Linked DNA regions of Homo sapiens: region 1 is linked to region 2. The links come from fine-mapping of genetic effects on gene expression. A gene starts in region 2. The other region holds a variant in brackets. All regions are shown on one strand. Distances are between the middles of the regions.

Region 1 (2,908 bases), 120 kb after region 2:
AGTTTCTTTACTTTAATAATATGATGTATGTCTTCATTTTTTATTTTTAATTAAAATTTTTTTTAAGATTATTAGAGATGGGGTCTCACTATATTGACCAAGTTGGTCTTGAACTCTTGGCCTCAAGCATTCCTCCTACCTTGGCCTCCCAAAGTGCTAGGATTACAGGCATGAGCCACCATGCCTGTTTTTGCCATGTTGGCCAGGCTGTTCTTGAACTCCTGGCCTCAAGTGATCCACCTGCCTCTTGGCTCCCAAAGTGCTGGGATTACAGATGTGAGCCACCACACCCAGCTGGCGATGTTAATTTTGGATACATAGACAAGATGTTGTCCAGTTTCTCCACTATTTTGCGCCATACAATTAGTTTTATTTTATTTTTATTTTTTATTTCTGTGTGCAATTAATAAGCAATCAATGGCAAGATATTTTGAGACCAGGCCAGGCGCAGTGGCTCAAGCCTGTAATCCTAGCACTTTGGGAGGCCAAGGCGGGCAGATCATTTGAGATCAGGAGTTCAAGACCAGCCTGGCCAACATGGCAAAACCCCGTCTCTACCAAAAATTCAAAAATTAGCTGGGCATAATGGTGGGCACCTATAATTCCAGCTACTTGGGAGGCTGAGGCATGAGAATTGCTTGAATCCAGAAGGCAGAGATTGCAGTGAGTCGAGATTGCACTACTGCACTCCAGCCTGGGCAATAGAGTGAGACTCGGTCTCAAAAACAAAAAACAAAACAAAACAAAACAAAACAAAAGATATTTTGAGACCATGAAAGTGTCTAGAAATTTCTTAATGCTTATCTTTTGTACATTTTACTGTTTGGTTTTGAATTTTCTCTTGATTTTTCTGCTATTCACAGTTATTATAAAGACAGCATTAAATGTCTAAATGTTGAGAAATTACTTAATGGGTACAATGTACACTATATTGGCCAGGTTGGTCAATCAACCCACACTATTTGGTTGATAGTTATACTAAAAGCCCAGATTTCACCACTATGCAATATATCCACGTATCAAAACTGCACTTGTACTCCTTACTTTTATACAAATAAAAATAAATAGGCGAGGCGTGGTGGCTCACGCCTATAATCCTAGCACTTTGGGAGGCCAAGGTGGGTGGATCACTTGAGGTTAGGAGTTCAAGACTAGCCTGACCAACGTGGTGAAACCCCATCTCTACTAAAAATACAAAAATTAGCCAGGCATGATGGCGCATGCCTGTAATCCCAGGTACTCAGGAGGCTAAGGGAGGAGAATTGCTTGAACCTGGGAGGCAGAGGCTGCAGTGAACCTAAATGTCCAGCTATTAGGGTGTATGATACAACTCCATAATTATTTTAGTCCTTTTAGTTCTGTTCTGTTCTGTTCTGTTCT[T/G]TTCTTTTCTTTTAGAGACGGGGTCTCACTATGTTGCCCAAGCTGGTCTCGAACTCCTGGGCTCAAGTGATCCTCCTGCCTTGGCCTTCTAAAGTGGTAGGACTGCAAACGTAAGCCACTGTGCCTGGCCAATTCCATAATTATTGTTATTTATTATTTATTATTATTATTTTTAAGACAGAATTTCGCTCTTGTTACCCAAACTGGAATGCAATGGCGCGATCTTTGCTCACCAGAACCTCTGCCTCCTAGGTTCAAGCGATTCTCCTGCCTCAGCCTCCTGAGTAGCTGGGATTACAGGCACGCACCACCACGCTCAGCTAATTTTGTATTTTTAGTAGAGACCGGGTCTTGCCATGTTGGCATGTTGGTCAGGCTGGTCTTGAATTCCCCATGTCAACCTCCCAAAGTGCTGGCATTACAGGCGTACAGGCATGAGCCACTGTGCCTGGTCCTTTTTTTTTTTTTTTTTTTTTTTGAGATGGAGTCTCACTCTATTGCCAGGCTGGAGTGCAATGGATGACACTATCTCAGCTCACTGCAACCTCTGCCTCCTGGGTTCAAGATATCCTCCTGCCTCAGCTTCCCAAGTGGCTGGGATTACAGGTGCGCATCACCACACCCAGCTACTTTTTTCTATTTTTAGTAGAGACGGGTTTCACCATGTTCACCAAGCTAGTCTTGAACTCCTGACCTCAAGTGATCTGCCCGCCTCGGCCTTCCAAAGTGCTGGGATTACAGGCATGAGCCACCGTGCCCAGCCGAAAAGCATTCTTATGATGGCTTGTGTTTTTTATAAGATGTCAATGCCATGACAGACTCTGACAGGAACCATGCAGTAGGAAGGAGCCTGGTCCTGCTCCCCCATCCTCCTTCACATGTTTCTCTAGTGCCCCCTACTAACTGACCCTAACAGAAGCTGGCTGACAAAGAATAAATGTAGTTTGTAGAGTTCTAGACTCACCATCTCAAAGTCCAGCATGGAGGTTTCAAAACCACTGGCATGGGCCGGGCGCGGTGGCTCATACCTGTAATCCCAGCACTTTGGGAGGCCAAGGCAGGTGGTTCACAAGGTCAGGAGTTCAAGACCAGCCTGGCCAAGATGGTAAAACTTTGTCTCTACTAAAAATACAAAAAAAATTAGCTGGGTGTGGTGGCAGGCGCCTGGCACCTGTAATCCCAGCTACTTGGCAGGCTGAAGCAGAGAGGTTGGCCTGGGCAACAGAGCGAGATTCCGTCTGAAAAAAAAAAATCCACTGGCATATAGGATTCAAGGTACTGGGAAAGTAATTCTGGGTTTGGAGCTGACAGATCATAGCTTACGTAGGCACAGTCTACATATTAGAATTCTGAGACACATTTAAGGCCTAGCTCAGAAGAAAAGTCATAGCTTTAGATACAAACACTAATCTGTAAATTCTTGTTACTTGCAGTAGTTATATTCTATAAAGTTGCCATAAACACTGAATTAGCAAATATTGAACCATTGCCTGTGGGGGAAATGCAGGGTTAGGTTCTGTTGAGCCTG
Region 2 (2,908 bases):
CTACCCTCATCCGCGTCGTACATATTGCCAAACGGTTCTCGAGCTCCTAACTCTTGAAATCAAAAGACAAAAACCGCCCAGAAGCCAGCAGCGCCAGGAGCTAAAGACGAAGTAACTTCCGTCTCCGACGTTCCCAGAATACCACGCGTCTCACACCAAAGGCCGCCCACAGGGACGCCAAAGTTAGGATCTGCGCCTGCGCAAATTGTAGGTCAAGCTTGGGCCGGGGTTAGGGTTGCACACGCGTAAATTGTGGGCCGCCGCTGCCGGGCTGATTGAGAGGACAGCTCCCGCAATCTGCGGTCGTATCCGTTCCGTCAATGTTTTATTTCTGCTTGTTTTTCAATGTTGTTGCACAAATAACGACACCTGAAAACAAAACCAGGTATACTTATTATTAAAAAGTGTTCGTCCTGTGAATCCGCAACATTGGGATGCTCAATTTATTTGCCTTTATAAGGACCAAAACACGAAGCTATTTTTTATTTTTATTTATTTATTATTTTTTGAAATGGAGTCTCGCTCTGTCGCCCAGGCTGGAGTGCAGTGGAGCGATCTCGGCTCACTGCAACCTCCGTCTCCCGGGTTCAAGCGATTCTCCTGCCTCGGCCTCCCAAATAGCTGGGATTACAGGCAAGGGTCACCACGCCCGGGTAATTTTTGTATTTTTAGTAGAGACGGGGTTTCACCACGTTGGCCAGGCTGGTCTCGAACTGCTGACCTCAGGTGATCCACCCGCCTCGGCCTCCCAAAGTGCTGGGATTACAGGCGTGAGCCACGCGCCCGGCCGGAAGCTCCTTTCTGTTTTTGTTTTGTTTTGTTTTTTTGAGACAGGCTCGCTCTGTCGCCCAGGCTGGAGTGCAGTGGCGCGATCTCGGCTCACTGCAACCTCCGCCTCCCGCGTTCAAGCCATTCTCCTGCCTCAGCCTCCCGAGTAGCTGGGACTACAGGCGCCCGCCACCACGCCTGGCTAATTTTTTGTATTTTTAGCAGAGATGGGGGTTTCACCGTGTAAGCCAGGATGGTCTCGATCTCCTGACCTCATGATCCGCCCGCCTCGGCCTCCCAAATTGCTGGGATTACAGGCGTGAGCCACCGCGCCCGACCCCGGAAGCTCCTTTTTAAGTGTGATTTATTAAGGGCGGCTTGTGCTAGCAGTGAGGCGTTAAGCCTGAAAGTGAAAAAACCCAAAACACTCACTGCTCTTTTCTGCCCACCTAGCTCAATCCTCCAGTGCCTTTGCCATAGCTTTAAGTAGGTTCTCAGTCTCAGAGCTTAAATCGCGAGAACTGACGGGATTAGACGCAAAACCAACCAGGACAGCTCCCAAGTACCCACGCGCTTTCGTCTCGGGTCAAATGCGCGCCTCGGACCCTAGTGCGCGTGCGCGCTGGTGGCTCCGCCCCTTTGGAGCTACTTCCTCATGCTGCCCGCTCGCCTACCGTTCAGGCTGCTGAGCCTTTTCCTTCGTGGATCCGCTCCCACGGCAGCGCGCCATGGCCTCCGGGAGCCGCTCCTGGAGAGGAGGTGCGCTGCCGCCTCCTCCTTCCAGCACTCATCGAGTCTGGGACGCGAGCTTCCTTATGACCCCGTGGACACGGAGGGCTTTGGAGAAGGTGGTGACATGCAGGAGCGTTTTCTGTTCCCGGAGTACATCCTGGATCCGGAGCCGCAACCCACCCGCGAAAAGCAGCTGCAGGAGCTCCAGCAACAGCAGGAGGAGGAGGAGCGACAGAGGCAGCAGCGGCGGGAGGAGCGGCGACAGCAAAACCTACGGGCCAGGTCCCGGGAGCACCCGGTCGTGGGGCACCCGGACCCGGCATTGCCGCCCAGCGGCGTGAACTGCTCGGGCTGTGGGGCAGAGCTGCACTGCCAGGACGCCGGAGTGCCCGGCTACCTGCCCCGAGAGAAGTTCCTCCGCACGGCGGAGGCAGACGGCGGGCTGGCACGGACCGTGTGCCAGCGCTGCTGGCTGCTGTCGCACCACCGGCGCGCTCTACGCCTGCAGGTGAGCCGCGAGCAGTACCTGGAGCTGGTGAGCGCCGCGTTGCGGCGGCCCGGCCCCTCCCTGGTGCTCTACATGGTGGACCTGCTGGACCTGCCCGACGCCCTGCTGCCCGACTTGCCCGCGCTGGTGGGCCCCAAGCAGCTGATCGTGCTGGGAAACAAAGTGGACCTCCTGCCCCAGGATGCTCCTGGCTACCGGCAGAGGCTGCGGGAGCGACTGTGGGAGGACTGTGCCCGCGCCGGGCTCCTGCTGGCCCCTGGCCACCAAGGGCCACAGCGCCCCGTCAAGGACGAGCCACAGGACGGGGAGAATCCGAATCCGCCGAACTGGTCCCGCACAGTGGTCAGGGACGTGCGGCTGATCAGCGCCAAGACCGGCTATGGAGTGGAAGAGTTGATCTCTGCCCTTCAGCGCTCCTGGCGCTACCGTGGGGACGTCTACTTAGTGGGCGCCACCAACGCCGGCAAATCCACTCTCTTTAACACGCTCCTGGAGTCCGATTACTGCACTGCCAAGGGCTCCGAGGCCATCGACAGAGCCACCATCTCCCCTTGGCCAGGTGAGTTTTAGGAGGCTCGCCCTCTTCGTTTCCTGGCAAGGTGGACGTCTGGTCCTGGCCGAGGCACCGAGTACATCCTCCCTTAATGTCCACTGCGGGCTGCCTGTACCCTTCCCTTTACAAATTCTCTCCCCACTCTGGTCACACCTCTCTTCTGTGTCAGCTTACTGCTAGGGAAAATTGAGGATGTGTTGTAGTAATTTTCAATGGAAGTGTTTATGGAGCACGTCTCTGTTCCCAGTCACTAAGCACTGGAGATAGACCAGGGAACAAAGCAAAGTTCCTGTTCTGGAGATTTGCTTTGTAACTTCTTTGTATATTGTTCCAGAAAGTGTGCGTCC

Alleles and levels. Alleles are on the strand shown, and positions count from the first base shown. SD is a standard deviation of normalised expression in the study named.
For the expression in aorta of the gene that starts at base 1,403 in region 2, allele T in region 1 goes with a lower level than allele G (small effect, 0.22 SD a copy in GTEx).

The links.
Region 1: its variant is fine-mapped to the expression of NOA1 in aorta (GTEx, PIP 0.97).

The regions. Positions count from the first base shown.
Region 1 is chr4:56,852,073-56,854,980 of GRCh38, reverse strand. No RefSeq gene overlaps it. Among named protein-coding and RNA genes, the nearest start is that of SPINK2, 32 kb to the right of the region's middle. The variant T/G (reference allele first, on the strand shown) is at 1,381.
Region 2 is chr4:56,976,101-56,979,008 of GRCh38, reverse strand. NOA1 (nitric oxide associated 1) reads left to right here and starts at 1,403. Exons shown (of 7, transcript NM_032313.4): 1 at 1,403-2,567. The coding sequence starts at 1,424. POLR2B (RNA polymerase II subunit B) reads right to left here and starts at 113. Exons shown (of 25, transcript NM_000938.3): 1 at 5-113. The coding sequence starts at 23. RefSeq lists enhancers at 1,661-1,730, 2,111-2,170 and a silencer at 1,831-1,910.